4 separate regions of the Homo sapiens genome follow, and all the other regions are linked to region 3. The links come from fine-mapping of genetic effects on gene expression. A gene starts in region 3. Each other region holds a variant in brackets. All regions are shown on one strand. Distances are from middle to middle.

Evidence for each region. PIP is the estimated chance that this variant, and not a neighbour inherited with it, causes the effect. A credible set is the group of variants that fine-mapping cannot tell apart.
Region 1: its variant is the best candidate, but not a certain one, in a credible set for the expression of MYEF2 in whole blood (TOPMed, PIP 0.60).
Region 2: its variant is the best candidate, but not a certain one, in a credible set for the expression of MYEF2 in whole blood (Lepik 2017, PIP 0.71).
Region 4: its variant is the best candidate, but not a certain one, in a credible set for the expression of MYEF2 in whole blood (INTERVAL, PIP 0.89).

The regions. Positions count from the first base shown.
Region 1 is chr15:48,210,242-48,218,353 of GRCh38, reverse strand. All of the region lies in intron 2 of SLC12A1 (solute carrier family 12 member 1), which reads right to left. Among named protein-coding and RNA genes, the nearest start is that of SLC12A1, 8.0 kb to the right of the region's middle. The variant C/T (reference allele first, on the strand shown) is at 4,969.
Region 2 is chr15:48,308,729-48,316,840 of GRCh38, reverse strand. DUT-AS1 (DUT antisense RNA 1) reads left to right here. Exons shown (of 3, transcript NR_186809.1): 2 at 1,878-1,946; 3 at 4,100-6,373. LOC124903486 (a long non-coding RNA gene) reads left to right here. Exons shown (of 2, transcript XR_007064625.1): 2 at 1-117. Among named protein-coding and RNA genes, the nearest start is that of DUT, 19 kb to the left of the region's middle. The variant C/T (reference allele first, on the strand shown) is at 3,973.
Region 3 is chr15:48,174,147-48,182,258 of GRCh38, reverse strand. It overlaps MYEF2 (myelin expression factor 2), which reads left to right and starts at 3,964. Exons shown (of 17, transcript NM_016132.5): 1 at 3,964-4,182. The coding sequence starts at 4,022. It also overlaps a transcript of CTXN2 not described here. RefSeq lists silencers at 3,723-3,822, 3,993-4,422, 4,453-4,622 and an enhancer at 3,369-4,020.
Region 4 is chr15:48,262,892-48,271,003 of GRCh38, reverse strand. It overlaps SLC12A1 (solute carrier family 12 member 1), which reads right to left. Exons shown (of 27, transcript NM_000338.3): 18 at 3,303-3,443; 19 at 1,240-1,346. Among named protein-coding and RNA genes, the nearest start is that of SLC12A1, 61 kb to the right of the region's middle. RefSeq lists a silencer at 4,666-4,866. The variant G/AG (reference allele first, on the strand shown) is at 4,559.

The DNA.
Region 1 (8,112 bases), 36 kb before region 3:
TTGTCTTTGTAAGGATTTCTCCTCAAACTCTTCTTTCTTGAGACCTTGTTCATGATACTATTGTGACACTTGGATAAGCAGCATAATACAGAGTCATAAGAGTCATTGTGTGACAAGTGAATCAGAGAAAGATTCAGCACTTAATTACCATTATTATAGGATGATTCTAAATTGTGGGTTACTTTTTCTCAGTACCAGCCAAAGGCTTGGCATGTAGCAGGCCATCAATAAACAATGCTGAATCAGCCAGGTGCAGTGGCTCATGCCTGTAATCCCAGTACTTTGGAAGGCTGAGGCAGGAGGATTGCTTGAGCCCAGAAGTTTGAGACCAGCCTAGGCAACATGGCTAAACCCTATCTCTACAGAAAATAGAAAAAAAATTACCTGCGTGTGGTGGCATGCACCTCTAGTCCCATCTACTTGGGAGGCTGAAGTGGGAGGATTGCTTGAGCTAGGGAGGTCAAGGCTGCAGTGAACCACAGTTGTGCCACTGCATTCCAGCCTGGGTGACAGAGTGAGACCCTATCTCAAACAAACAAACAAAAACAACAATAACAAAACAATGTTGAATTCAGAAGGTGGACTTGAAAGTTCGTGATCTCTACCCCTTAAGAGCAGATATCCTAGTTTCTTATCCATTCTTGCCTCCTACTTCTTTTATCTTCCATCTCTATGGGACAGCTCATTTCTTATTGTTTCTTCTGGGTAGGTCACATTTAAAAGGGAAGAAGAAGGGACTGAATCCTAAGACAGATTATTTTATTATTTTCTGACAGTATTGGGAAAAAATGGAATAACAGAGGAGATTGAAGTTAATAATTAAAATTTAGCTTTTAATTACCTGAGGAATATGTTAATCTTAGATATCCTCAGTCCTTATTTGCACAAATAATTGAAAGCTAACATAATGTATTCACACCAATGTAAGAATAAACGCAGTCCAAAAAATTGAGGCTAACATAGTGGGGCAGAAACTGGTCATCTATACCAGCTATAAATGCAAACCAAGTATGTAATTCAAAATTTTCTACTTTTTAAAAAGGAAAAAGAAATTGGTGCAGTAATTAGGTTTAGAGATGGACCCTTACATTTTAAAGATATACTTAATCTTTGGAGAATATCATATTTCTAATATTTGCAATATAAGTATTTATTAGCAATAGTTGCACCCCAACTTGTAGGGAACTGAATCACAGGAGTGTTTTAGTAATGTATTTTACTTAATAGAATATCTATAAAATATTACTTCAATATATAATCAGTATAAAAATATTAGGAAATATTTTACATTCTGTTTTTAATACTAAGTCTTTGATATTCAGTGTGTATTTTCCACTGGCAGTACATCTCAATTTGGACTAGCCATGTTCCAAGTGCTCAATAGCCCCATGTGGTTAGTGGCTACCATATTGGACAGCATAGGTCTATGCAATGCAGTCAATTTCAGATGCATGAAACATTTGAGGCTGTTTTCCAGTCCATTAAAAATTCTGTTTTTCTCTGAAAGAATTCTATACACATACGGCAGCTGAATAGGTCAAATGTAACTTTCATTTTTTTCATAACTGAAATGTATAATCAATGAGAGCAGGGAATTGAGGAATGTGTTAAAATGTCCATGACTATTGAAGGGATTATTTTGTTAGGAGATCTATTTATTTAGTTTGATTTGAGAAAAACTTTAAAAAAAATTGTCAATATTCTAGTTAATCAAAATCCCATAGCCAGACCATCAGTAGTTACTCACTTTGGGAGAGGGCAATTTTCTTTGTGTAGATTAATTGGGGATCCCAAGAGACACAGCCTTAGTTGCTTGCCTTTTTTAAAGATGGTCTTGGGAATAAAACCTATGTTTTCTGATTAAACTTGAAGATTTGGTCTGGGAAATTGCTCTGCTAGCTGATAAACTCCAATGGTGATTGTGACCCTTAGATATGAATTGATGAGAATATCCAAGACTGTAAACAAATCTTACAAAGTAGGCTAAAGGATGAATAGGGTATTTAAAATTTCCTCTAAAATGAACTTTCCTTCCTGATGGATGCCCTTCCTGGTCACAGTTTAATGGTTCTTCAATTTATCACTAGGATTTCACAATATGATGCAAAAAGAATATTCTATGAGAGGATGACAGGGAAACCACTATATGTGCAAGTTAGTAAAGCAATCATTTTCTAAATTATTCAAAGGTGTAGTCAATGTAGGGTGTTCAACTCTCCCTTAGGTATTAATAATATGTTCAACCTGCTAGAATTTCAAAGTTTTAAATATATTTATACCATAGAGGGGAAAAAAACCCCAAATGTATACTTCTTTTGTTGACTATTAAGGTCTGACAGTAAATTTACAAGCACAGAAGCCATTTCCATTGCTTACTCTCATGTAGGAGCCAAAAAATCCTGCACCGTATAAACTAGGATACTTGGAATCTAGTTTTGGTTGTGCAATTCATTCAGGGTACGTCCTCCATCAAGGTGTTTAACCGTGCTTGAATACTGCCAATAAGAATAAATCCAGTGGATTTTGTGAAAATCTTATCTTGAAGTAATTTACTCTAAGGCAAAATTGTTTTTCTCTGTTTGCCATCTTACAGTTCTGACATGGCAAAGCAAACCTTTGTTTCACTCTTTAATAAATGCCTCCTTAGTAAATCAGAACAGCAGTTGTAAACTCATCATCAAAGTACTGAACATGACTTTGGGTGGAGGGTTTGTGGGGACTTGATGGCTATGAGCTGTGTAGCAGGTGGCCTGCAGTCTCCCAGCTGGTTCATGTTCTTGAGGCCAAAGTCTCAAAGACTAAAAGTTTTATGATTACTGCCTGAAACCAGTTTTTCCCTTCATACATTGAATTAATTTGTTTGTTCACACTCCCATTACCATAAATGATGACCCATAACCTTTTATAAATGTATTCTAAATTATGTAGCTTTAGGGAATGATTATTTATTTACTAAGAATTTTAACTGTGTGTTAAGGATTCAGGAAAAGTAAAATAAAGTATGTTTAAAAAATGAAAAGAAAGGAAGACCACTTGATAACAGATTATCCCCACTCCAATTTTGACAACTAATGAATCTTCAATCACATGCAGTTTAAAGGGCAATGAGTTCTTGATAATGAAAGATTAAATTATTTTATTTAATATGTAATGTGATTTTTCAGACCCCAGAAACATATCAGATACCTTTATAGCTATTATCAAAGCTGAGGAAAATAAATATATTTGTTCTTTAAGTTCCAGCTAGATACTATTTGTTACTTACATCTTTATGTCTATCATCAAAGCAGGGAAAATAAATATATTTATTCTTTAAGTTCCAACTAGATAATATTTGCTACTTATACATTCTTTTGAATTTTGATCCTTTAATCTCAGGTTGATAGAATTTTTAGACCACCACCGAGAGACAGTTCCATAAATATTCACACCTAGATGATCCCCCTGTTGTTTTAAACTTTCTTTTATTATTGTCATATTCAAACATATGTAAAAGTAATGAGAATAACAAAATAAATCTCAGGTACTCATTATTGAGTTTCAACAATGATCAACATATGGCCAAACTTGTTCCACCTAACCTAAGCCCCTCCCACTCCTGCCACTCAATTATCTAAAAACCAATCCCAGTAAGAACCAGATGATTCCTAAGCTTCATTTCAGAATGAAAAACATATGATTCTAACCATATTTCCATACCTTACTGATCAATATTATTATGTTTATACATTTCTATCCCTTTGTGATAAAAGGCAATATTTTAAATTATGAAAATGAAAGTCTTTTTTTCTTGTTTTGAAAGTTATTACACATTATGCCTATAAATCACTACCAATGGTCACAATTTGTAATCATAGTGCATTTACTATAGCTGAAAACACATATCTCACACACAAATTGACTTGTGTTTTTGATAATTTAGGACAAAAGTTAGCTATGTGCAATAAACTGGCATATGAAAAAGAAAATGGAAAGGTTCTTAATATTTTCCAAGTATAAGTTTAAGGGAACTACTGCTCTTCTTGCCATGTATTACTAAACTATTTATAATAAAAAATTAATTGTTTTTGTTTTTGTTTTTTTTCCCAGAGATTGTTTTAATAGTGTGAGCTCCCCGGGGAACTGGCCCTGAGTACTAAGAAACTCTAACTAAAGTATCAGAATGAACTCTTAGTTGCAGAGGTTCACTCCAACAAATATTTTAAGGGTGGCTTCTGGTCACTGGACTTTAAGGCATTTATTGCTTCAATTTTAATGTCTATTTTATTTGGCTGTTGTTAGCTTAGTAATTATTTCTAATTTCAGATATCCCCAATTTGAATGCTAAAGTTGCAAATTTGAACTTTGAAACACTGTAGAAAAGGTTATTTTCTAGAGAAAACATTCGTACATTTTTGTCCTTTTATAGAAGATAAGCATTTAATGTATATTTTAATACATTGATTTATGTGGTTTAATGTTTGTTAACTTGACTACATTTCCTTTATTCGTATCCATAACGATGTCGTTTGACTTATAAAATTCTAGAGGAGGCTGGGTGTGGTGGCTCACACCTGTAGTCCCAGCACTTTGGGAGGTTGAGGTGGGCGGATCACGAGGTCAGGAGATCGAGACCATCCTGGCTAACACGGTGAAACCCTGTCTCTACTAAAAATACAAAACAAAAAACAAAACAAAACAAAATTAGCCGGGCATGCTGGCGGGCGCCTGTAGTCCCAGCTACTCAGGAGGCTGAGGCAGGAGAATGGTGTGAACCCGGGAGGCAGAGCTTGCAGTGAGCCAAGATTGCGCCGCGGCACTCTAGCCCGGGTGACAGAGCGAGATCCCGTCTCAAAAAAAAAAAAAAAAAAAATTCTAGAGGAAAGAGGTCAAGTCACTTTAACTCACTTTACACAGAAACTCTTGTAAATACATGCTTAATAAATGCTTTTGATGGTGACAATGAAAATGATTGAGACATAATTAATT[C/T]TGTAGGACAAGCAATACAATCTTTTGTCACAGTCTCAGAAAAAAGGACTGAAACAAGGAAGTACCTCCTGCTCAGCCCATCATGACAGAGTGTGATTTTCTTCTTCGTGCCTGAGTCCCACCATTCTCTACAGCTGTTGAATGAGTTAATGAAAAGTGCCAAGGGAAAGCAGACTGAGGATGGAAAGTAGAACTGAAGATCAAGGACTCTGGAGTCCTGCAGACATGGGTTCAACTTATGAGCATGTGACCTTGGTTTCTTGACCTTGGAAGTTCATTGACTTTTGCAAGCCTTTGTTTTCTCTTCTAAAAGATCCACAGCATTTTATAAAACTTTCACCATCCATAAAAAAGCAATAATAATAGTACCTTCCTTGAGGGGTTGTTGTTAAGGATTGAGTGAGAATTTTTTAAGTGTGAGCACAGTGTCTGAAACATAACAAGTTCTCAACAAAAAGTTGGTTATTACTACACTGCATTTAAAGTTAATGCTTTTATTTACGAATTATTTGTAGTTGTTAACAGCATAATGATCCAAATATAGTCATTTCATTGATTTTTTTTTGGATTAGTTTCTATAGAGTTAGCTTCTTTAAGAATAATATTTGTCTTAATTTTATAGTATTTTATACTTTTCATAGATAGCTTATTTCAATGACACATGGCTTCGATAGAAAGTCTATATATTTCCTTGAATCCTTTTAAATTATATTTTTCTGAAATGCTAACAACAATGGTGGTTAGTAAGGCTGAAAAGGAGTTCCATTTTGGTTAGTCCTGTAGTAAGGAATTGGATATGAAAAGTTGGTCACAGGAATTAGGCTGGATACTGAAAGCAAAATTCTCTTTACAAAGTAAAGGCACTAGATTAATCTTTGCCAGATGTCAAATAATTATTACATATGCTTTAATACGGAAAGATCTCGAGGGTATGTTTGGTAAAAACTGCAGAGTGCAGAACAATGTGGAAAATACGTCTGGTACATGTTTGAAAATAAATATAAACAGAAAGTTAGATTGATAGGAATCCAGATATTTATAGATATATGTGTATGTTTATATAAGCCTAGAACATTTCTGGAAGGATTTACAAGAAACTGTTAGTAATGATTGTCCTGGAGAGAATAACTGAATATTGATGTTAGAAGAGAAACATTTTATTACATATTTTTTAGTATTTGTTAAATATTTTATTTGTATTTATTTTTCTGTTAAAATAAAAAGCTAGTATAAAAATTACCACTATCATCATCGATCATTTATTGAATTCTTACTCATTGTAAGGGTAGACTTTATACTTATAGAAACTAATGTTCACAAGCATCTTGCAAGATAAGTAGAAGTTATGTAGTTCATACAATAGCTTGTAGAGAGCAAGTAAAGGACAGTTGTTTCTCCTGCTTTTAAGTAGAGTTTTCAGAAATTTATAATTAACGGTCACCAGTATAGGTATTTAGCTCTTTACTAACATAGATAATAAAAAGAATTTCTTCAATTACGATCTCAAGTCATTGGGATTATAAATTCTGTCAATATCTATCACAACTAGAGTTTCATTTAAGGTAGAGCCTTAAAATAATGTCTTTCAAACCTGTTTTTTATTTTACCTATTAGTATAATTTTGTCATGTAACTTTTTTCTCACTTGGAAATTATAACCAAAATTTACGCAAAATCCAACTGGTTTTCTGACTAACCATGTTCTGCCATTCGGTATGAATGTGCTATTGCTATTATAACTTTTAAAAGCATTCTAATCATAGTTACAAAAAGTATTGTCTAGCTTGTACTGTGTCAATTACCTTCTACTTTTAAATGATTTAAGTAAACACTATTATTTATATTTTTTGCATACAAAATCTGTGAAGGGTCTGAGTATAATCACATAATGTTTGTTCTGTTGATGATTTCTAGTTGTGATTTGAGGAACTACCATAAAAATGTCAAGGGCCACAAGGAGGTGGCAGCACAGCTACAGCACATTGCAGGTTTTCACTTCTTATATTTGAGGGGGGAAAAGTAAGGAGAGTAGCTGAGTCAAATTCATTAGCAAGCAATAAAAAGATAAATTAAAGAAGGCCCAGACTGCTACACATGGAGAGCCAGGCTAGGCCATACAATTTCAGCAACACTAGAATGGGCCTGGCTGCAGAAATGTGCACATTGTAGATTCTGTGGTTGAATCTGAATTCTACTCCCAATTTGGCTATGTGGATACCTCTTCATGATTTAATCAAGATGAAGGGTCCTAGATAACTGAGCATCAAGTCTGTAAAAGAGTAGCTTATTACTATACACTTTCAAAATGATTATTCAGAGCTTAGGCCTAATTTTTAATATTTTAATTTGCCATTCCTTTGTGTCTAAGAAAAAAAATGCTTTAAGTCGAAGTTCAGTCTTTAGTTTCATTTTATGTCTTCAAAAGTGATACAATATTCCAAACAGCTATTACATTTATCTAATGCAGCTATAACATTCCTACTGTGTGGTCATTTAGATGGCTTTCTGTTTCTTTTTTTTTTTGAGATGGAGTTTCACTCCTGTTGCCCAGACTGGAGTGCAGTGGCACTATCTCAGCTCACCGCAACCTCTGCCTCTCAGGTTCAAGCAATTCTCCTGCCTCAGTCTCCCAGGGCCAGGATTACAAGCATGTGCCACCATGCCTGGCTAATTTTTTTTTTTTTTTTTTTTTTAAGTAGAGAAGAGATTTCACCAGTTGGTCATGGCTGGTCTTGAATTTTTGACCTCAGGTGATCCACCAGCCTCAGCCTCCCAAAGTGCTAGGATTACAGGCATGAGCCACCACACCCAGGCTTTAGATGGCTTTCTAAACACCTGTTCCTTCAGAGCTTTTCTCCCTTTATTGAAAGATTTACATAAGCCATGGCTTTTGCAATTATAAATAAGCTACTTTTCTCTGTCGGGAATGTCAGTCCTAAGAACAATGTGAATTTATCCCATTTCTTTTTTAATGAAGTTAGAATTCTATTTTCTTTTGTTGTAAATTGGGGAAGTAGGTGAATGATAATATTTAAATTGTGACACTAACTTTAAAAAAGGAGGCAGATTTAAAAATTATCATGTGTGACGTGGTAGAGTATTGTGGGATAGAATTTCAGGTCTTTTTAAAAAAGAACTTTGATTC
Region 2 (8,112 bases), 130 kb before region 3:
ATGGCATGTGTTTACTTATGTAACAAACCTGCACATCCTGTACATGTATCCCAGAATTTAAAATAAAATAAAGTAAAATAAAATTTAAATTTAAAAAAATACTTGTGCTTTTATTTAGGACTTAGCCAGATAATCCAGGATGATTGCCTCATCTCAAGATCCTTAATCACATTTGCAAAAGCCCTTTTTCCATGTAAGGTAAAATTCACAGATTTCAGGGATTAGGACCTGGATATCTTCAGGGGCCGTGTTCAGCCTACTACAGTGTATCTAGCAGGATAGTTTTGTTTTAGATTTTTTCTGTTTGTTTGTTTTTTTGAGACAGAGTCTTACTCTGCCACTCAGGCTGGAGTGCAGTGGTGTGATCTCAGCTCACTGTAACCTCTGCCTCCTGGGTTCAAGCAATTCTCCTGCCTCAGCCCCCTGAGTAGCTAGGATTATAGGCACCCGCCACCATGCCCGGCTTATTTTTTTGTATTTTTAGTAGAGGCTGGGTTTCACCATGTTGGCCAGGATGGTCTCAAACCCCTGACCTCAAGTGATCTGCCCACCTTGGCCTCCCAAAGTGCTGGGATTACAGGTGTGAGTCCCCACACCTGGCCTTGTCTTAGATTTTTATAGGGAAGAGTAGACAAGTTATAGGTGGAGTAAATTTAAAGTTGGGATTGTTTATTTCTGTGTCTAGTTAGTTTCATGAGGACAAAACTTATCTCAGCTAATCATCCATGAGACAAAGAATAAAGTTAGAAGGTGTCTGTCTGACCTTATGTGCAGGCTCAGTTTAAAGGGGAAAAGTCTGGGTTTGACCTTGTCACAGGTAAACAAAGGAATCATCTACAGTCTTGTAGGAATCATGAGAAAGAGTTGGCAGTGTCTTGTCTAAGTCATATAGGGAATGGTGGTTGATTTCAGTTAGCCATTTCTAGAACACAGAAAGCTGGGGAGACTTCTTAACGATTGCTGTGTTCCAGGAGCACAGGGCTCCGGTAAAGTTCAACACTGTCAGCACCTTCTTATCCTTATGTGTTTTTCATAGACATCCTCACTGAGTACCCTAATAAAGTATTACTATTTCCATTATTCTCTGTCACACTGATACAGAACAGCTGGGCTCCTGGCTAAACCCCCTCCCCACCCCACCCTTAAGCCTGGAACCACAGCCCTAAGTGAAAATAGCTGACCCTGTTTTTCCACCCAAATGTTACTTTTTTGGCCTGCCACGCCCCTATCCTGTTGACATAAAAAGACTTCAACTGGCAGAGCAACACAAGCAGCGGAGCGGTGGGGGTACAAGCTGCTGAGCATCAAGACTATGGATAGATGTGGCTAACTTCAGACAGTGTGGCTTCAGGGAAAGATCACCTTCTTCCCACACCCATCCCCTTTCCAATTCCTTATCCTGCTGAGAGCCACTTATATCACCCAGTAAAATCCTCCGCATACACCAACCACCCTTCTATTCGTTCTTGTGGCCTGATTCTTCCTGGATGCCCGGGTACGGAGAGGGCAGGGGCTTGGATGCTGCTATAGGGCCTGCACAGAGCGTGCTCCTGCCAGAGAGGAGTAATGGGCCAGTTCCAGTGTTGTCTCCGGTTGCTGCACTCGCTTGCTCGCAGGCTCTCTTTTGGGAGGAGTGGCCGACAGTGGGCTGAGTGAAAGGAGCCTCTCCAGTTCCCGCCCACAAAGGGCATCAAGGTCAACAGAGTTATCCTGTCTCAACACTTTCTCTTTATTTCCTTCACAGTATTTTTCACAATTTGTAATTATTATGTGTAACTTGTTTTCTTGTCTGTCTAAACCTTTAACTTTTTGAGGGCAGGGAATGTGGATGCCAATATCTTAAGAGCTCAGAACAGTGTATCTTTGTGTCTTTACAGCCTGACACATTTTTGTTGAATCAATTGACAAAAGAACTGACACCAGATGGCCAATCAACTCAAGAGAAAGTGAGTATAGTAGTGAACTAAATAAGGATAAAAATAACAGTGATTGAAAAAAGAGGCTGGGCGAGGTGGCTCACGCCTATAATCCCAGCAGTTTGGGAGGCTGAGGTGGGCAGATCACAAGGTCAGGAGATTGAGACCATCCTGACCAACATGGTGAAACCCTGTCTCTACTAAAAATTAAAAAATTAGCTTGGCGTGGTGGCGGTGCCTGTAATCCCAGCTACGCTGGAGGTTGAGGCAGGAGAATCGTTTGAACGGGAGTGCGAGGTTGCAGCGAGCCGAGATCGCACCATTGCACTCCAGCCTGGGCAACAGCGTGAGACTCCGTCTCAAAAACATAAAAAAAAGAGTGAGGCTGGGTGCGGTGGCTCATGCCTGTAATCTTAGCACTTTGGGAGGCCAAGGTGGGCAGATAATTTGAGATTAGTTCAAGACAGCCTGGCCAACATGGTGAAACTCCATCTCTGCTAAAAATACAAAAATTAGCCGGGCATAGTGGCGCATGCCTGTAATCCCAGCTACTTGAAAGGCTGATGCATGAGAATCGCTTGAACCTGAGAGGCAAAAGTTGCAGTGGGTTGAGACATGCCACTGCACTCCAGCCTGGGTGACAGAGCGAGACTCCATCTCAAAAAAAAAAAAAAAAAAAAAAAGAGAGAGAGAGAGAGTCAGAAATCCCAGGCAGCAGGATAAGCATATTCAGAGCTCTGGAGAGTACAGAGTGTGTGGTGCGTCAGGGCATAGCTGGTGTGGAAGGGCCCTGAGCAGGGCAGAATGCGGCTTCATAGTGAGTCAGAGACCAGACCCCAAAGGAGTTTCATACTTGCCATGTCCCCTCAGTGCCCTGTATTAATTCATCGTTCCAACAAATATCTGTTGAATGTGTTCCATGTGCCAGGCACTGGTCTAGACTTTGAGGATATGGCAGGGAACAGAACAGACAAAATAAGTCTGACAACAGATAGAAGATGTGATTCAAATGAGTAGTGCCGAGAGTTAAGGAGAAAAGTAAAGCAGGGAGGGAGGTATGGGATTTAGACTTCTGATTTCAGAGAGGGAAGCCAGGGAAGGCCTCAGTGAGAACATGCTATTTGCTGATTGTGGGGCTGGGGGCTGGGGGTTGTTTTACCTAACTTGAAGGAAGTGATATCTTGGGGAAGGGCATTCCAGGCAGAGGACACAGCAGGCACTAAGGTCCCAGGGTGCAAACTCACCTGTAAGAAGGCCAGTGTGGTCTGAACAGTGACAGAGGAAGGCGTACACAGTTGTAGGTGTTGAAGTCGCAGAAATAGGTGGATGGGGTGCAGGGGTAGGGCCTTGTAAGCTCTTGTAAGGACAGTGGCTTTTCCATGGACTGAAATGGGAAGCCATTAGAAGATTTTGGTAACAGGAATGACAATCTCTAGTTTACTTGGCAGGATTGCTTGGGTTGCTATGAGGAAGAGGAGGAGTAAGGCCTGATGTGGAAAGACCTTTGAGAAGATGTTGAAATGAGGCAGAGGAGGAGCTAGGCCTGATGTGGAAAGACCCTTGAGAAGGCTCCTGCAGTGATCCAGGTGAGAAATGGTCCAGTGGCAACATGGGTCAGAGAGGCAGAAGTGGAGATGGTGACAAGTGAGTAGATTCTGGATATATTCTGAAGCCAATAGGATTTGCTGATAAATCAGATGTGCGTGTGAGAGTCAAAGATGACTCGAAGATTCATGGCAAGGATAGCATTGTCATGCATGGAGATGAAGGAAGAGTGTTAAAGAGCACCTTTGGGAAGGAAGAGTAAGAGCTCACTTTTGGACACATTAAGTCAAAAGTGCACAAATAATACTTTTTTTTAGTAGAATTCATTTTGTAAATGTATCTTTGAGCATTAGGAAATCACAGTATGGTGATCTGTTTCCAATGTGCGTGTTGTGTTAGCAGCTGGAGTTGTTTAATATTTTTTTTTGTATTTGTTTTTGTTTTTTGTTTTTTGAGACAGAGTCTTGCTCTGTCACCCAGGCTGGAGTGCAGTGGTGCAATTACAACTTAC[C/T]GCAACTTCCGCCTCTAGGGCTCAAGTGATCCTTCCCACCTCAGCCTCCCAAGTAGCTGGGACTACAGGCATACACCACCACACCTGACTAATGTTTGTTATTATTATTATTATTTTTTTTTTGTAGAGACAGGGTTTCACTGTGTTGCCCAGACTGTTCTCGAACTCCTGAGCTCAAGCTATCCTCCTGCCTCGGCTTCCCAAAGTGCTGGGATTACAGATGTGAGCCACCGTGCTTGGCCTAACATCTTTAAATACCTGTTATTTCTTACTCCTCTGAACTTCTCACTTTCCCTGAGAATAATTTTACCACCTCTTTGTTGGGCAGAAGTGCAATAGGAACATCAGAAAGTGCAAGTACATAATAACAGAGAAGTCAGTCTCTTTTTCTTCATCTCTTGGGCATCGAAAAGAGCAGATGATCCAGATTTGAAAGTCTGGGAAAGCCATGCTGTGTGAGAACAGGGGCTTGCATGACAACAGAGGGTTGGGCTTGAGCCCCCAGGGTCTGCAGCAGTCTCACAGTTTAGCAGTTACTTATGCCTTTCTCTCAAAGTCAACTGCTGAGTTTTGTCCCAAACTACCCTCTGCTGCAATATGTCTCCCAGGCTGAGGAGGAAATTAGTCTTCTTATCCCAGTTGTCATTGCTTGTCACCTTCTCTGAAGCAATGACATTCATGACCTGGTTCTTGGCCTCAACCTCTGAGAAGTTCTCCTTTCTGCATTCCTCATCTTAAATTACTTAACCTGAAAATATACTGTTTAAATCTTACACTGGAGCTCCATATACTCTGCTTAACTGCAGAAAGAGTCTGTCTATGTAAATTAATTTTCCAGATAACTGAAGCTTAGCCATCTTTTGATGCCAGCCATGTGGACGAGAATTTTTCTGAGGGTGAATTGCAGTGCAGGTATCCTTGCTTTCTTAACCAGGATACATGGAACAAAATTGAGCTTTTCTGCCATTAGTCTGTCCTCTTACAAAGTAATGATGTCCTCAAGCTCTACTGGGGTGTGTAGAATCTCTTTCACGTTTTTGACCTCAGATTGCTGCAATTTTGTGCTCTATATTTCCTTTGTTAAAAGTTTTTCATGTTTTGCTGCATTATCCCTGGTGTCACTTATGGCTAGTTACTGCTCATTTAACATTTTGTTGACTGAAAAACAATGTAACTAGAATTGTGTGCAAATGTTCTGTATGGAAACATCATTTTAGTACTTGAGGATCTCTGAGGTCTTTTTCAGGTTTAATTTATTTTTATGGTTCTAGATATCCCTCCAAATGAATATGATCTATTGTGCATGCACAGAGAGTGGAACTTTTTGGGGGACACTTCATGGACCATTTTTAACTTATCTAACTCCCAGCTTGGCTCTTCATAGCTGATATATATGATCTCTAGAAATGTGAGATAGCAATATTGAAGGCAGGATTCTAAGATGGCCTGTGTAATCTCCTCCTCTTGAGTCTGGGAGGGACCTGTGAGTATGGTGGGGTGCCCCTCTAATTATTAGCTTACTTTATAAGGAAAAGATGAAAATTTTTGCAGATATAATTAAAATCCTTAATCTGTTGACTTTAAGTTTGATCTTTTTAAAAATTATTTTATTTTATTATTATTTTTTTTTGAGAGGGAATCTTGCTCCCGTTGGGCAGGCTGGAGTGCAGTAGAGCGATCTTGGCTCACTGCAACTTCTGCCTCCCGGGTTCAAGCAATTCTCTTGCCTCAGCCTCCCAAGTAGCTGGGATTACAGGCACGGGCCACCACACCCAGCTAATTTTTATATTTTTAGTAGAGATGGGATTTTACCATGTTGGCCAGGCTGATCTCTAACTCCTGACCTCAGGTGATCCACCAGCCTCTGCCTCCCAAAGTGCTAGTATTACAGGTGTGAGCCACCATGCCCGGCCTTTAAGTTCAATCATAAGGGAGATTGACTAAAGTGGGCCTGACTTAATCAGGTAAGCCCTTTAACAGAGGGTCTAGAGTTTAAAGATTTCTCCCTGGTGGCCTTAAAGACGCAAGCTGCCATGAGTTCTATAGCAGCAAGAAAATTAATACAGCTGCCAATCACTTGAGCTTGGAAGAGGATCCTGAACCTCAGAGGAGACTGTAGCCCTAGCTAAAATCTTGATTCCAGTATAGTAAGATCCTGAGCAAAGAACCCAGTTAAGATATGTCTGGCCAGCCATAGGGCTCACACCTGTAATCCCAGCACTGTGGGAGGCCGAGGCAGGAAGATTGTTTGAGGCCAGGAGTTCTAGACCAGCCTGGGCAACATAGCAAGACCTTGTCTCTACAAAAAATAAATAAAATAAAATAAAATAAAATAAAAGATATGCCTGTACTCTCGACCCATGGAAAGTGTGAAATAATAAATGGGTACTGTTTTAAACCATGAAGTTTGTGATAATTTATTATGCAGCAGTAGAAAATTAATACACATCCCACTTGGGTTTTGTGTTTAAAAGGATGAAAGAACATACTATACTCATAATGCATAGATTCACACAATTCAGTCACATTATAATAATTACCCTATCCTACTATGGATAATATCAATTCTGAGTTTTATTTGGCCCAGAAAATAAAACTCAGAACCTATTAAGATTATACTTGGCTGAGTATGGTGGCTGCTGCCTGTAATCCCAGCATTTGGGGAGGTTGAGGTGGGAGGACTGCTTAAATGCAGGAATTTGTGACCTGCCTGGGCAACAGAGTGAGACCCCATCTATAGAAAAAGGAATAATAAAACGAAAAAATAGTTCAGCATGGTGGCTTGCACCTGTAGTCCCAGCCACCTGGGAGGCTGAGGTGGGAGGATCACTTGAGCCCAGGAGTTCAGAGGCTTCAGTGAGCTATGACTGCGACACTGCACTCCAGCCTGGGCAACAGAGACTCTGTCTCCAGACAAAACAAAACAAAACAAAACACAGCACAAGATTATACTTGTCTATTCCTGAGTTCCAGAAAGTAAAATATGCAATATGAACCTACTGACCTAAATAATGTCTGCAGGGCCATAGTGGTAAATCTGATGCAATATTTCTCTATCACTTTCTCCACCCAAGAAAGAGGCATATATATATTTTAAAAGATCTCATGTTTAAAAAAAAAACAAAACTAAAAACCTAAGCTTATCAGTAGGTATGTGATGGGGTCAACTTTTTCTTTTTACAGTGACGTTTTAGTTGCTCACTTATTTTACGAATAAGCACAACACAATAATGATGGTATAATATATTTTTGAGTGTTAGAAATTTATTATATATGACCTTCACAATATATGTCAGATCAAACATGAGTTAATCATTAAATACAGTCTGGCAGACAAGTAGCTTGTTTATGGATTTAATTATTTAAATGTTAGTTTTTGAGTAGTTATTATTGTATATAGTAAAAATGAAATCTCTTACTTGTCCTTCATTCAGTTTTCTTCTCCAAAGTCAACCCTAATTGGTTTCTTATGCATTCTTCTAGAGGTACACTATGCATTTACAAATAAATATTCAAAAAATATGAATAAGTAAATGGTAACTAATGCTCACTAAATTGGATTAATTAAATTAACTGATTTCCTAGCAATAAGATATATCTGTATTCCTAGAATACCATATTCCTGATTATAGTGGAATATTGTTTGAATACATTGGTAAAATTGAGTTGCTAGTATTCTATTTTGGATTTTCCTATGTTTATTCATACAAGAAATTGACTTGTATCCTATTTTTGTGGTCTGTCATATTTTGGTATCAAGTTTATGCTAGTTTTGCAAAATAACTGAGAAAGGGAAAGACAATGTTTTATCTTGTTCTGTTCAGCAATAGCTTAAATATAATGGTAATTATATTTTCTTTGAAAGTTTAAAAGAAGTTGCCTAGAAAAAATCCTTTGGGTTGAAACTTTTTTGAGCTAGATCTTTGACAATCTTCGTGTTTTATCCTGAAGTATTAGATTTTATCAGGTATTCTATTTCCTTTTGAGTTAATTTGAGTGGTTTATATTTTACTACAAATAGATATGTGTATTGTAATTAAAAATTTACCATACTAGAGTTTTAAAGGACATTCTTTCCCAAAGTTGAACCCAAAGTCCCTTGCTTATTTGTAAATGTGTATATTTATATTTTATCTATTC
Region 3 (8,112 bases):
CACTTAGCTAGCTGGTAGAGACCTTTGTATAGGATGTATTTTTGGAATGCTAAATGCTAAAAAAAAAGAACTCCTAAAGTAAGCAGAGCTGTGGTGTAATGAGGGTGTATTGGGGGTGATACAGAGATACGGAGGGAGAGAGAGAGAGAAAGGAGGAAAAGAGAAGAAGAGAGAGAATGGTAAATAGCTAATCGTCAGAATAAGATTAAACTTTACTTTCTACTTGATAGTAACCAATGTCCACATTTTCATCACAGAATGAACTTTCTATAAAAAGGGAAATACATATGTAGATTTCAAATATAAACCATAGTATTTTAAAAAGTTACGAATTCCTTTTTAAGCTTTAAAGAGGTAAATTTTTACTTTGTAAGGTTTAGAAACTTCATGCCTTCAAATCCAGCAATTTATATAGTGAAGCAAATTGACTTAAAAATTATACCATACTTTTTGTTTTACTTCATATTGTTGGTCTTTGCCGTTTAATTCTTTTTTCTTTTTTGAGTTTCTGAATACCCCAGAGAAGGTAATCTATTTATTATGAATTCTAGGGCTAGAATATCAGCACAAATATGGAAGTATTTTTAGAAGCTATTGTCACCATAGAAATGTTAGCCACCATTTTTGTCTAGTTTCTTTTTCTTTTAAATTTTATTATTATCCCTAAAACTTAATTCTTAAAGACAAAATAAATTAAAAAAAAGAAGAATGATGACATCCATTCTCTTCTTCATTGGTAACAGAACCCTGGGCAGTAAGCCCAGCCCCCAAATTATTTGCCAACCTCCCCCACAGATGAGTGTGTCATGTGACTAAGTTCTTGCCCATAAGCGGAAGTGTTGTGTGAGACTTCTGGATAGGTCCCTTTTTTTCTGGACTCCTTCTGACCTACAATGCCGACAAGGTGCCTCGATCTCCAGCAGCCATCTTGGGTCATAGGGCAACCTTAAGAATGGAAGCCTCACACTAGGATGGCGAAAGATTAAGGTAGCAGGAACCTGACTTCACGATGACTGTGAAGCTACTATATATCCTCTGGGATGCTCCTTCTGCATTTATTTTACTTAAGAGAGTAAAAATGTATATCTTGCTTAAGACACTATTATTTCTAGTTATTGTTATTAGCAGATGAACACAATTCCTAAGTGATACATATATTAAGGTATTAATTGAAAATATTTTGTGATTTCTAGGATTAGATTTCTAGATACGTGTAATAGCTTTTCCCCTATCCCGCCAGGTACACACACATAAACATGCATTCTAATTTGTAAGAAAGAAAACTAAGTGATTATGTGAAGTTGTACCAGTAATATATTTTGTGCAATTGCAAAGGATAATGCTTTTGCAATGTGAATCATGGGAAAATAAGAATTTGAGCATCACTTAAGAATTTTTCAATGTACCTACATGCACTAAAAAACAAACAAACAAAAAACAAAAAACCAAGGCCGGGCGCTCTGGCTCACGCCTGTAATCCCAGCAATTTGGGAGGCCAAGGCAGGCAGATCACAGGGTCAGGAGATGGAGACCATCCTGGCTAACACGGTGAAACCTGTTTCTACTAAAAATACAAAAAATTAGCCGGGCCTGCTGGCGGGCGCCTGTAGTCCCAGCTACTCAGGAGGCTGAGGCAGGAGAACGGTATGAACGCGGGAGGTGGAGCTTGCAGTGAGCAGAGATGGCGCCACTGCACTCCAGCCTGGGTGACAGAGCGAGACTCCATCTCAAAAAAGACAAAACAAAACAAAACAAACCAAAACAGTAGAGAGGAAGACAAGCAAATACAGAAATGGAATTCAGCAACAGAATATTAATAGTTTTTTCTTTATCTTTTGCAATTAATAGCAAGAAAGGAAGGAAAGATCAATCTATTGAGCAGTCAGATGGAATGGTAAAGATTAATCATTCTCTTCCCTTCAGAAGTTGCCTTAATTCTTTGTCTTTTAAGATCCAGCTCTTTTATAAGGCCCTCACCAATCTCTCAGTAGGAATTAACCTCTGCTCTTTATCAGGACTAGAACCAAGCTACAGCGGGTGAGGCATTTGTCTTGGGTACAAAAGTTAAAACTCAGTAATCAAGATAAATATTTTAATGGAATATTTTAATTGGCAAACTAAGGCATGTGGGCCAGTCTCCTGTTTTTGTAAATAATTTTTTAATTATACTTTGCTTTTATTTGTATTATAGCACTTAAATAGTACTTTTTACATTAGCCCTCTCCCAACAGGGCTGTACTCATTTTTGTATTCCTCATGTACCTACTACTCTGTTTGAAGCATAAAGGCCTCTTAAAAAAATCTTGCATTGAGTTGATTAAAGGATTTTTGCAAGAATATATTGTACTGGTGATGGTGGGGTTCAATTTTCATACTGAATTCAACAATAGCAAAAGAATAACAGAATGATGACTATTTTGAAAGTACTTATAATTTAGTGCTGTGGGAAAAATCACTTGGCTTGTCTTTGACTAAAACCCTGCTGAGCTTAGGGAGATAGAGAATTGTAATATTACATTATGTTCATATAGCACTTTTTCCTACATAAAGTGCTTTCTTTTAATCCTCACCTCAATCCTGTAAGGTCGGTATTGCTATCCCTATTTATTGTAGAGAGATTGAGAAATGAGGTGACTTGCCCAGGGAGTTATGGGCAAAAAGAGGCAGAGCTGGGGTTCTAACCCAGATTTTGTCTGTCACAATTGAATGCCCTTTCTGCGATTATAAATCTTATGTCTCAGAGTTGAATGAGAAACAATTTATACAGCAACTACAATAGCATTCTTATCATTAAAATGTTCTGATTATGTGTGTGTGTGTTTGTGTATGTGTGTGTGTGTATGTGTGTGTGTGATGAAGTAGCTGAACTTGGTATTTTTCGGTAGAGGGTAGGAAACTACACATTGAAAAGCCGAAGATGAAATTATGTTATTTGAGTATTACTTTCTAACTATAACTTTACCACTGATGTGTGTATGATATTCTGCAAAGTGACTAAACTGTACGTGTTTGCTTCTTCATGGAAAAAAAATTTGGGAAGGCATTTAAACTTTTCAGCTGAAAAAGGTTATGTCAATGTGAAAGATTATAGTACTCGAGAATTAGGAGTTGATTAAATTTAACGGTTTCCTTTTCATACTTAGGGGGAAAAATCTACGACTGTATTTTAAAACTCCATATGGCAATTAAATTTGAGAGCGTATAACTAACTACTTCACTAGAATTTCCATCAGTATACAATAAACACACAGTCAAAACCTCAAATGTCCATTATTAGCCCATCTAGTAGACGATATTTTATAATTATGGATTCCCCATATTGATTGATGTCCAGAGAAAAACTGCAGTCTTCTCTTACTAAGCTGATAGTTGAGTTCCTGGGAAATCCTCACCCCCTAAGAACAAATAATTCTCAAAGAAATTCAAAGTCATTCCTTTTGGTGAATTGCAATCAGTCATCAATAACTATTTATGGAATGTCCGAAGGGTGCCTAGGCATTGAAATGGCAAGAGACTTATATTTGCTTAATTCAAAGGATTTCTAAAGGCAGTCTGAGGACTTGCAAGAAGTCTTTAAAGATGCAAAGTGGTGTGTTCTTTAACTGCCCCTACCTGGAATGAATTGAACAGTCTGGGTGTTAGGGCTTTGATGTCTAATCCCGCTTTGCAAGCGAAGACTCCACTGGTGCCAAGCGACAGGCGGGCTGGTGGGCAGACATGGCACCACCACCGGGGGCTTTCAGGACTGGTCCAGCCCTCCCAGGCAGGTGTAGGGCCGACTGCAGCAACAGCGGCCCTGACCCCAGCTCCCATGGCTCCCCTCCCCCCGCACTCCCACCCCCCGCACCCGGCACACACCATCTCCCAGTCACCCAGTCTCGACCGGTTCTCGCGAGATCCGGGTTACTGAGCGCTCGGGGCCTTTTCAAATCGGGATCCGTTACCGCTTCCCCGGCAGCCGCCATTGTCGCGCTCGGAGCCCCTCAGCTCAGGCGGCCGAGGCGGAGGCAGCGGCGGCGGGATGGCGGACGCCAACAAGGCCGAGGTGCCCGGGGCCACTGGTGGCGACAGCCCGCACCTGCAGCCCGCAGAGCCGCCGGGCGAGCCGCGGCGAGAGCCGCACCCCGCGGAGGCGGAGAAGCAGCAGCCGCAGCACAGCAGCAGCTCCAATGGCGTTAAAATGTATTGTCTTTTCCTCCGGGAACCGGGGCGAGGTGGGGGGCGGGGAGTCTACCGGGCGGCTAGAGGCCGGGCTGTGCCCCGATGGGGGACAACCACCCCCAGACCCCGGCCCGCCCCCGGGCCATCGGCTTCCTGAGGAGCAGGTGCAGCTGGGCCGCTCCCAGGCCCTTCCCCGCCCGCCCCAGGCCTGGCCGCCTGTGGTCTGGGAGCCGGGGCTGGGGGCCCGGGGACCAGCGCTCTTCCCTGATTTCTAGCCCGAGACAGCGAACACCCCTCTTCCCTGACTTTGGTTAAAGAATCTTTGAGCAAAGCTCAGCGACCGCCACGGTTTGCAGGAAAATGGTCCCCCTTTAAGGACCAGTAGTTAGTGTTCATCACTAGGGAGTATCTAGGGATGACATCATCGGACATTTCCTCTTAACCACCGAGAACATATTTAAAAGGAATATTCCTGGCTTCTTTCTGAGCTTCACAAGTTTAGTGTTTTGTTGTTTTCTAAAGTGTATGTTCATTTTTAAACTGATTTATACCGAGAGGAAGTTTAATAATGTGCTGTTAGACTCTATGTTTTGTGTTACTCTTGAATTGGCTAGACGTACTTTAAAAAGGGAAATGTGCGATGTGCGTGGCTTCCCTTCCCACTGGGTAATGTGCGTCAGCTGTGGAGAGTATTTTTTTTTTTAACTCAGTGTATGATTATCTTAAGTTTGGTATAATAGATGGTTAAGATTTTTTTTTTCCCAAATGAAGGAAGACTTTTAAGGTCGCAGCTGTCACCAGTGCCTATAAAGAATTTAGTTGACCCCAATCCATAATAATTTCTGGTTCTAGGGAAATGTTATGCTCTCCTTTGTTCCTGTCCTGTGGGAGGATATGAAGTTAAGCGCTTACTTTCATATGCCTACCTCCTTAAACCTGAAGTTGAAAGTATGTTAATAATTAAGTGAAAACATCCTTTTCCTTCTCTGTTATGCCTCAGAGCAGAAAGCAATAGATATATGCTCACAGTAAAATAGACAAGGGAAAGGTCTTTCTGACCTTTGTATAAGCATGTTTGAAATTGTATGGTAAGAACTGGACCAGTCTGTGTAAAAGTTGGTGGCAAAAAAGATGGGGTAGCTCTCCCCAGCTCTTTGACACTCTTGCTCTCAAATGAGTTTGAACAGGATCGGCAGCATCTTCTAGGAGAATAGAGGTGCAGGTATAAGAGATTGGAACTTAGTGGAGTTTATTCCTGGATGAAGAGTGGTGCACCTCAGTAATTGAGGAACCAGAAAGGGAATGAAGTGCTTTCTACCATGCTTGCCAAAATGTGGGCTTTCTGGAATTTGGCATTAAAAATAGAAATGAAAACCGGTGGAATGATAAACTTAAAAATATGTGCTATTCATATCTAAACACGAGTATACATGCCACCTTTTCTCCTGAACAAAAAGTGCAGCCTTGAATTACAGAGAGAAGCCCTCCTATACTTGGGTATGATTAGTTTTGATATAGGGGAAGTTTGGTATCTAAACCTCCATCAGATTTTCTATTCCCTTCTAAAGTCTCTTCATGATTTAGCAAGACAGGAAAAGAGAAAGGAGAAAGGTGGAGAAAGAATCCTTTTCTAATTTAGGAAGAGAAAAATATAAGGTGAAGAAATGAAGAAATATTACTAGTAAATACAGATTATTTCCATATTGCTTATAATTCGCCTCTCCCTTTCTCTTTTTCCCAGAAGTTGAATCGAGTCCAATTTACTCTCAGGGATTTCTCTTACTGTCTATTCCATAAGAAGATTTGTGATGGTCCAGCATGAGTCATTCAAACTGAATAACTAGCGACCTAGTCCTTTTTTTTTTTTTTTTTTTTTTTACTTCGTGAACTAGTAGGAGTGGATAACAACCCCAATACATAAACCTTGAGTTGATTACCATATACTTTTAATAATAAAAATAATTCATTGTTGATTATAAAAATTACCATAATATTGCCCCAAATTATGTATTGGTTGGAATTGAACAGAGTACTGCTTGTCATCAGGATTGAAATAATATTTGCTGAGGTTAATCCATAGTTATTGAGGGTGGGAGACCACTATGTCTTATTCTTCTTTGTATTCTTAAGGCCTAGTAAATATTTGTGGAAGAAATGCAGAAGTGAACTTTCATGCTTATGAAACTCATATACAGGGAATTTAGTTTGCATATTCACACCTTTAGAAAAGATCCGTTTTCCAACTGTAGTCTTCTTCTTTAACGCCAAATGGTATACTAGCTCTCCTTTTCTTAAAAATGAATAGGAGGGAAAAGAGCAGTATTATTATAACTTTATTATTCATGTGTAATTAAGTATAACTTTGGAGTAGGTAGAGATTGAGAGTTATATTAGGGTACTATAAAATATTAAGCATTGGAGCAAGGTAATGTGTTCTTTAGCTGAGTGATTTTTATTAGGAATAAAGACTAGAACTGTTTCCCCCAGCTTTATTGAGGTAAATTGACAAAAATTGTATATTTTGAAGTGTACAGTGTGATGGTTTGGTATACAAATAAATTGTGAAATGATTACCACAATCACGCTAATTAACGTATCTGTTACCTCGCATAGCTACCATATTTTTTGGTGTTGAAAATACTTAAGATCTATTCTTTAAGCAAATTTCAAGTATACAGTAAATATGTTAAGTATAGTCACTATACTGTACCTTAGATCTACAGAACTTACTCATCTTATAACTGAAAGTTTGTGCCCTTAGAACATTTCCCCATCCCCTGCTGCCCTCCACCTCTGGTAAACACCCTTCTACTCTCTGCTTCTGAGTTTGACTTTTTTAAAAGTCTGTGTGTAAGTGAGATCATGTAGCATTTGTCTTTCTGAGTCTGGCTTTTTTCACATAGCCCAATGTCCTCTAGGTTTATCTCTGTTGTTGCAAATGGCAAGATTTTGTTCTTTTTGTAAGGCTGAATAATAATATTCCAGTGTGGATGTGTTGTGTAAACATAAAATATAATATATATCATGTTTCCTTTAATCATTTATCTGTCAATGGACACTTAAGTCGTTGTTTCCATATCTTGGGTATTGTGGATGATGCAGCGAACATGGGAGTGCAGATATCTCCTTGAGATAGTGATTTCATTTTCATTGGATATATACCCAGAAGTGGCATTGATGAATCATGTGGTAGTTCTGTTTTTAATTTTTTGTGGACCCTTGATGCTGTTTTCCATAATGGCTGTACCAATGTATATTCCCACCAGCAGTATCTAAAGGTTCTTTCTCCACGTCCTCAGCAACAGTTGCTATCTTTTGACTTTTCGATAAGTCATCCTAACAGGTATGAAGTGATATTGCAGTCTGGTTTTGAGTTGTATTTCCCTGATGAACAGTGATATTGAGCACCTTTTCATATACCTTTTGGCCGTTGGTATGTCTTCTTTGGAAAAATTATCTGTTTGGATCCTTTTCTCATTTTTTAAATTGGGTTGCTATTGAGTTGTATGGGTTCCTTATACATTTTTGATATTAATCCCTTATTGGATATATGGTTTGCAAATTTTATCTCTCATTTCTTAGGTTGCCTTTTTATTTTGTTGAGTTTCCTTTGCTGTGCAATAACTTTTTACTTTGATGTAGTCCCAGTTGTTTACTTTTGTTTGTGTTGTCTGTGCTTTTGGTGTCATATCAAAAAAAAAAAAAATCATTGCCAAGGCCAAGGTCATGGAGCTTTTCTCTTGTGTTTTCTTCTAGGAGTTCCATGGTTTTAGGTGTTATAAGTTTTTAATCCATTTTCATTTTGTTTTGTATGTGGATATCTAGTTTTCCCAATACCATTTTTTGAAGAGACTGTCCTTTCACCATTGTATATTTTTGGTGCCTTTGTCAAGGATTAGTTTACCATATATTGGGGATGTGTTTTTGAGTGTTTGTTATGCTCCATTGGTC
Region 4 (8,112 bases), 89 kb before region 3:
AATCCACCCGCCTCGGCCTCCCAAAATGCTGGGATTACAGGGGTGAGCCACCATGCCTGGTTGAAAGGCTCAACTTTCTACAGTGTTTCTCTCTGTATGTGTAGAATTTGTTTTCTCTTATTCAAAGGAAGAAACCAAGCCAGGTAATACTTGAAGTATATATGTATACTCCAAATATTACATATTATATACTCCAAGTATTATGTGTGTGTGTGTGTATATATATATATATATATATATATATATATATATACACACATACACACATAAGTATTATATATTATATACTCCACAATTGTGTGTATGTGTATATATATAAATAATATATATATACTTGGAGTATATAATATATATATGAAATACTTTGGAGTATGTAATATATAATATATATAGTATAAAATATATAATACTTGTTTTGGAGTATATAATATATAGAGAAAGCATAGCGTTATAGTCATGAGTTTCAACTTTGAATTTGGATAGTCCTGGGTTGGAATTCCAGCTCTGTCACTAAATGCTGAGATTTTTCAGCATGCTACTTAATTTTTAATGTCTTTTTCTCCACTTGTAGAATGGGAAAAAATATTAGTACTTCCTTCGAAATCTTCTTATGAGAATTAAATGAGATAATACATGTTAAAGACATTAGCCTGCAGCCTGCTAGTCCTTTAAGATCTATCATTATTACTTACATCCTAAGTCTCCTCAAATATTTAGCTATTAGAGGTTATGTACCACCGGAAACTCACATTCTGTGCACAAGCCAATGATGCTCCACCTGGTAGCAGAAGCACCTGGCATATGGGAGCCTCTTAGCAGAGGGAGATATAGGGCTCTGGGATAGTGAACGAATTATCAGAGGCTCAGAAGAAGACAATGACTGAATTGGAGACACCAGCCAACCCAAGATTCCAGGTGTTTTGAAAGAAAAATTTCTCCTTGCTTAGCTGTGCTTTCCTTTTAATCTTGTAAATAGATTTTAAGGTTGTAACTCTAAACATTTACTTTTTTCTCTGACACGGGCGTTTCTCTCACCCTGCCTCCTCTGACACTCTGATTCCCTCAAACTCTATTATTGGTGGTGTTTTTTTCACCTTGGAAAAGAAGTCAGAGTACCAGGGGAATGTACTCTTCTCAGGCAATTTAATCTGACACAACAGTGTTATGTGCAGTACAAGTTATGTACTGCCCTGCTTAGTGCTTTATAAACAAGAACACGTCTTGAAAGCCATCACTTACTGTATGATTCCCACGTAGTTCTCAATCTCTGTCAAGGGAGCTTTCCTCCAGTTTTTCTTATATCCAATCACCAGAGTGTTTGGTTTCATTCTTCCTAAGCCTGAGGCCTAAACAGAGGACATAAAAATGTGGGCAATCCTTACCGTACTGGGAAACTACCATCACAAATGAAAAATAATGTCTAAAGGAGCACTGAAGTAATGTTCTGAAGATCCTGAAGATTAGATTACATTTTAGTGCATGTCCTTCATGCCCGTACCCAAGCATAAAATGGAAAGATTAATTCTAAATCATCCCAGCTATAAATGGATTTTAGATGACAGAAATGTAGCTTTTCTAAATTAGCAGTCATTTGCATTTCTTCTGACACAGTCATTAAAATGGTTCAATAATTTAAAATCAAGTGAGGGTCAGCTTAACTGTTGGTATGCATGTTGTAACTTAGTGGTTCAAAGCTCAATTCCACCTGTTATATCCATAATGTCATTAGCAATAAAATCCATGTTTGGAAAATTCTTATGTACAAGGATCACTAAAATCTCTACTTATGTTATTTATTGAAGAGTGACTGAATTATGTTTCCAAAACCTAATTCTTTTATGTGACAGTATCATTAATAGCCATCTTCCATATCAGAAGTGTTGTTTCCCTTCATTAGATGACAGCATACAGCTTCCAGTTAATCAAATTTAATTCAACAATATTACTAAGCACCTATGAATTGCATAGTGCTATGTCTTGTCCTTTTGCCATGGTTCTCCTGTACTTCACTTTTTATGTGAAGAAATTCATATGAATGTATGCATGTTCAAATTTTCTACCATTTCTTCTGGATTCTAATAATTCTTTTTCATACTTGTGTCTTTTCTTTCCCTGCTCTTATTTTATGTCCATATTCCCATTCCTAGTTGAAAATATTATTTTAAAATCTTGTATGATAATTTTATAATAAATGACTAATAGTGACAACATATTTAACCAAAGAGCTATTGAAAACTAACTTGGTACTGAAAGAAAAATCAGCATCTTGCAATAACACCTATTTCCATGGTTTAGCAAATTAATAACAGATGAAAAGAGGCTCATTGTGGGTAATAGGTTTTGCAGAAATTGTTTCTCTGTACGTGCATCTACTTCGCAAGTGTTCTTAAGGGAAATTAGGCACAGGATTGCATCAAATACTCTTAAGCTCCAAAATATTACCAATTAAGCTTAACCAATATTTTTTCTTTCCTGCCTGCATGCGCATCTGAGTTACCTGGATGCAGTTCTGACTTCTGACACTCTGAAATACAGTAACTCTGAAAGCCAAATGCACCATTTCATATATATATAATTAGGGTTTTCAACCATATTAAACCCAAAATGCTCGGAAAGCCAAGCTCTACAATTTCTGAGGGTCTCTTGGATTGTTTTAAGGATTCTTTGTCACTCTAAATTATGACGATCAGAACTAGGAAAAGATTTTATGTACTTACTATAGCAGAGATGAAGGAAAAAGGAAAAAATAAGGGAAAAAAGATGTGAGAACTATGGGATTTAAGGTTGAGCTGTAGAGATTATTACATTTTATTCAACATTCTGGAAATAATTCAGGAGGATAGGGAGATTTTATGCCCAGATCACCATGCATTAATTTAGTTGGTCTAGCAGCTGCCCTAACACCATTTGCAAAAGAAAAAAGGAAAAGAATGCCTGACTTGAGCATTGCTATATGCAGTATGAGATATAAAAATAGTTTGAAGTTTCAATAGGATCCTGAATGTCGTCAACCACCAGAACAAATTTGCATTTCAATAAGTACGGGGGCAGAATGTATGCTGGTGGCCAAAGGCAACCTCATTTTCCGTTTCCAGTGTATCATTCATAGTTCATTGTAATAGAACTTCTCTGCTTTTGTTCTAGCTTTGCCTATACCCAGGAATTCAAAATAATCCCTTAACCATCTGCACTGATCTCTGATGCTTGGCTGCCTAACTACAGCTGTTCACTTTGGGAGCCTTATTAACATGGAGCACTAATTGTCTTTTGCCTCTGTGCTCATTCCCTCAATGCAGCCTTACCTGAAGAAGACTTCGGACACCATCCCTGAAACAGTCTGCCGCCACTGCAGCATAAAAAGCCTTGATTTTGTTCTTTATAAGCCAGGCCTGTTTTTTCGCCATGCCACTGTTCATCTCCTTAACACACAGTTTGCGCGGTCCCTGTGTGACACAATGAAATATTGGTTAGAACCCTGCTATTATATATCACATTGCTGTTGTTTTCTAAAGGACAAAAATAGCCAGCAATGCCCCATTGAGTTAAGAAATGGGAAAGAGGGAAAAACACCTCACTGAACAGGGTTCCACAGATTCAGCCTTTTGGAGATGACCTGCGGTATTCACACCATTCATTTTCTACCCAAAACATCTAGACTGATTAACATCTGCTTAATTTACTGCCTGACACTGAATGAAAGGAAGAGTTGAGGGCAACATGACACAAGGAAAATACTGAAAATGTGACTGAAGAGGCTTAGGATAAATACACAATCAACCTTTGACTCATTAGCGAGAGCCACTTTCAGGAACACGAAAGAAATCTCAGCTGGAGCCTAATTTCAAGAAATGGACAGAGCTCCATGGGAGGTAGAACATGGTGACCTGCAAATCCTGCCATGAACTGCACATCTTGTCAATTCTATTTGGCTGATGCGTTGCTTTTTCGTGTGGCAAAAATACCCTTATACCACTTTTCCCTGTGTAATGTTGCCACACTTCCATTCAAATACATTAACATTTCCTTGTCATTCAATGAATTTGGTGGGAACAAAGGTTTACGTACCTATGACCTAAGAAGAGTGGAAGAGATTAAGAGGGAAGAAGACAGGTGTTGTGATGGTTGATAAGGCATTTTATAATTTCAAGATTTAGTTCTGGAAACACATTTTTAATGAAAAATTCTATTTTTATTTCTCCTTCCTTAAATGTCCAAGCTAGTTCTTTTCTTCTCATGATGTAATTCAATCCAAAAGTTATTTCTGATTATCTGCCATATGTCTGACAGGGTACAAATCCATTTTCCCAGGAAATTCTTTTAATTTATAGAGAGATTTGTATTTTGTTGAGATGGCTTAGATTTTACATGAATCACTTGGGATCTTGATAAAATGCAGCCTTGTGGGTATTGAAGCAGGGCTCAATATTTTGCATTTCTAACAAGCTCCTGGAGGCAACAGATGCTGCTGCTCCTTAGACAGACCACACTTGGAGTCACGGTCTTAAAGGGTCTTAGATTGGAGAGAAAGGACATTGGGATGCATGAAAAAAAAAAAAAA[G/AG]CCCAGGCTTTGCGGTCAGACAAAACAGGTCTCAGATCTAAGCCTGAGGAGGTAATTCCTTATCTCTGAGCTTTTGTATCTTATCCTTAAAATGAGGATAAACTCTTGCTCGTGCAAGGTTGCTTTAAGTAGTAATAATAAAGTACCTAGTGCAATGTCATCAAAGCCCCGGATGTGATTTTACCACTGTGCTTGCAGGAACACTGAACTGTGAGTCAGAATGTTGGGTTGAGATCTGGCACTGACTGGCTGACACCCTGGGTCTGCCATTTGTCCTCTCTTGAGGTATGTTCTACATTGATAAAACTCAGGCAATTGCCTAGGTCATCACTGCCCAATATGATAGCCTGTATGTCCATGCTGCTATTGAACATTTGAAATGTGGCTGGTTCACATTGAGATATGCTGGATGCATAAACTACACACTGGATTTCAAAGTCCTACTACAAAAAAGAATGTAAAATATCTCATTAATGTTTCTGTATTGATTCTATATTGAAATTACAATATTTTGGACACACTGGGTTAATACAATATTATTAAAAATAACTTTACCTATTTCTTTTTCCTTTTTAATTGGCTACTAGAAAATTTTAAATTACATATATGGCACATAATATATTTCTATTACACAACATTCAATCTCTGGGGTCCCTTCCATTTTAATATTCTATTTAAATTGGATCAGACTCTTTATATTCTTATTTTTTCCAGCATATTTCCTAGAACCTGCCAACTTTTCAAAACAGTTTGGTTGACTTCCCATTAAAGGAAAATTTAAAAACAAGAAACTTCCATGAAGATAGAAAAGATAGAGAGATTGGCAGGGTAGTTACTAAACTAGATGACCTAGTCTAAGGAAAGATATGCCATTATGGATCAATTTAGCTCAGGTTTCCAGATTGTCAATGCATTTTGAATCACTAGTCCTTCTTTGAGCATTCTAAACTTCATCAACTGCAAAAAAAAGAAAGAATATTTTATTCAAGGAAGTTCAGTGGTTACAGCAGCCATTAGATAGAAGAATAACAAACAGGAAATACTTTGAACCATCAGTGTAGTGAGTTGTACCACAGTGACTGTGAACCCCTGGGGAGAATGGCATTTATTTAAATAAACACAGTCTAATGTATGTCTGTTAGTATTATAAAAATCCAGATTAAACATTAATTGTGACAGAGAGATTTACTTTAATGCCTAAACTTGCCATATTGAGAAGTCATAAAAATGTTTCATGCAGAATCTCTCTTTGCTAAAAACGATTATAACATCATTGTAGCACACTTATTAATGTGAAGCAAGGAAGGCTGCAATACAAATGTGGTAAGAATAAAGCAAACTAGCAAAGAGAAAAGACATACTGGAATACAATTATTCAACATTCAAATATGCCATAGTTACAAAAATGAATTTTACTACCCCATTATAATATTATAGAGATTAGCTTCAGTTGGGATCCAAAATATGAGTATATAAATTAATTCAGGATTCAAACAAAGAAGCTTTAAAAATCTTGTATATATTATAACTTTGATATTAATTGAGAAAGGGGTAAAGCATTTCTAATTATGTAGTGTGGAGAAGTTGATGTGATGTTACTTTAAATACGTGACTATCATGAAAAAGAGTTTGTAAAGGGGTTCCAACCCCATTCGGATCAAACAGAGGAATTCACCAAGTGCAGTATTCCTTCCAACTTTTTTCTTTTTTTTAACATTGAAAGTCTTATTAGTCTGTCTTTGTTTTCATGGATGCTTTGGTTGGAATTGTGGGAAAGAAAATTTTTCCCTTTCTGATTTGGTCCATATTATCTTACCATACATGCTAGTGCCCATTCATAGGTCATTTCATTCTTTCAATATTTGGTCATGTCACTATTTTATTAACATCATAACAGAGGCTCACTGATAAAAAAAATAAGATGCATCTAGAAAGAATACATTTTTTCCTTGGTGGATGTGAAATTTGAGATTAAGAGGAGGCTGAAAGATAGAAGAAGAAATGAGAATTTAGTTTTCCCTGGGTTATAAGGGCTTGAACTGCCTTCCTTATGCAGTTCAAGAGTTAAGAGGTAGGTGTCTTCTGTGAGATTTATTGAGAACTCCTCAAACAGAGAATTCAAAGAGAGCCTTAGGTTTTCTTAAGATATTTTATAATTTTTTAGAAAAAAAACGAGAAAAAGAAACAGGGTAAAAGTCTAAGAGCCGGTCAAAGTCCATCCCTTTCCTCCTTTACAGGAGAGGACAATCAGGTTTAAAGTAACATTAATGAATAAGAAAAACATGAATGAAAATAGATTTACATTTTGGTATCCGTGTGTGAAATGATGAGAAGAATACCCATAAAATTCAGATAACATTGCCTCTGGGAACAGAGAGAACCAGGGGTCTGGAGTGGTATTAAAAGGGGCTTTAACTTGATCTGTAATGGCTTATTTCATTTAAAAAGTGAGTGGAGGGCCGAGTGCAATGGCTCATACCTATAATGGACTTTGGGAGGTCGAGGAGGGCAAATCGCTTGAGCCCAGGAGTTGGAGACCAGCCTGGGCAACATGGCAAAACCCTGTCTCTACAAAAAATACAAAAATTAGCTGGGTGTGGTGGCACATGCCTGTAGTCCCGGACACTGGGAAGGCTGAGGTGGGAGGATTGCTTGAGCCTGGGAGCTCAAGGCTGCAGTGAGCTATGATTGCGCCATTGTACTCCAGCTTAAGTGACAGAGGGAGACTCTGTCTCAAATAAATAAATAAATAAATAAATAAAAATAAAGTGAGTAGAAGCTTCTATAACCAATTTTTTTTCTTTTTTTAGGCAGGGACTCACTGCATCTGGCCCAAAATGTTAACAGTCATTAATTAGGAAAAGTAGAATATAAATTAAAGGTCTCATTTAATTTTATATAGTGAGCCATATGAAACTGCCAGTATCAAACGATTTTGATCTATAAAAATGCAAATTTTATATGATTCAACCTAATTAATTTTTTTAGTGTTTCAAAATTTAAAAACAGAATCAATCTTTTTAAAAAATTCTTATTTCTTCAGCCACCAGCACAACATAATGTACTTGATAAAAGATGCCACTGTAAACCTGAAAGCCTTTTGCAAGGTAAGACAAGCAAAATTGAGAAAAGAGGTAAGTGGCGTGTTTTTGGACAATAATGACTTTATCTGATTTGTGTTCCAAATCCCAGGTCAATGGAATCGACTTTCAATTCAATTAACTTTTGATCCTTAAATGTATATCTGTTTATTCATTTTAATAAAAAAATTCCTATTTTTAAATGTAAAATTGAGAAGTATATGAATAAGGAACTGCTGCAGTATGATGCCTTTGCACCTGGGAAAGGTAAGTGTCAACTGATCCCATAAGACTTCTAGAACTGAACATAGTGTGCCCAGAGAATTACAGGTACATAAATTCAAATTAAGTTATCTGGGATGATTGGTTTGGATATCTCTGCATCTACTATGAATGACATAAGTGAGGAAACTCATTGACAAAGGCAGTGCTTATATGTGTCAGGATACATAGGGTAAAACTGGTGGAGGATGC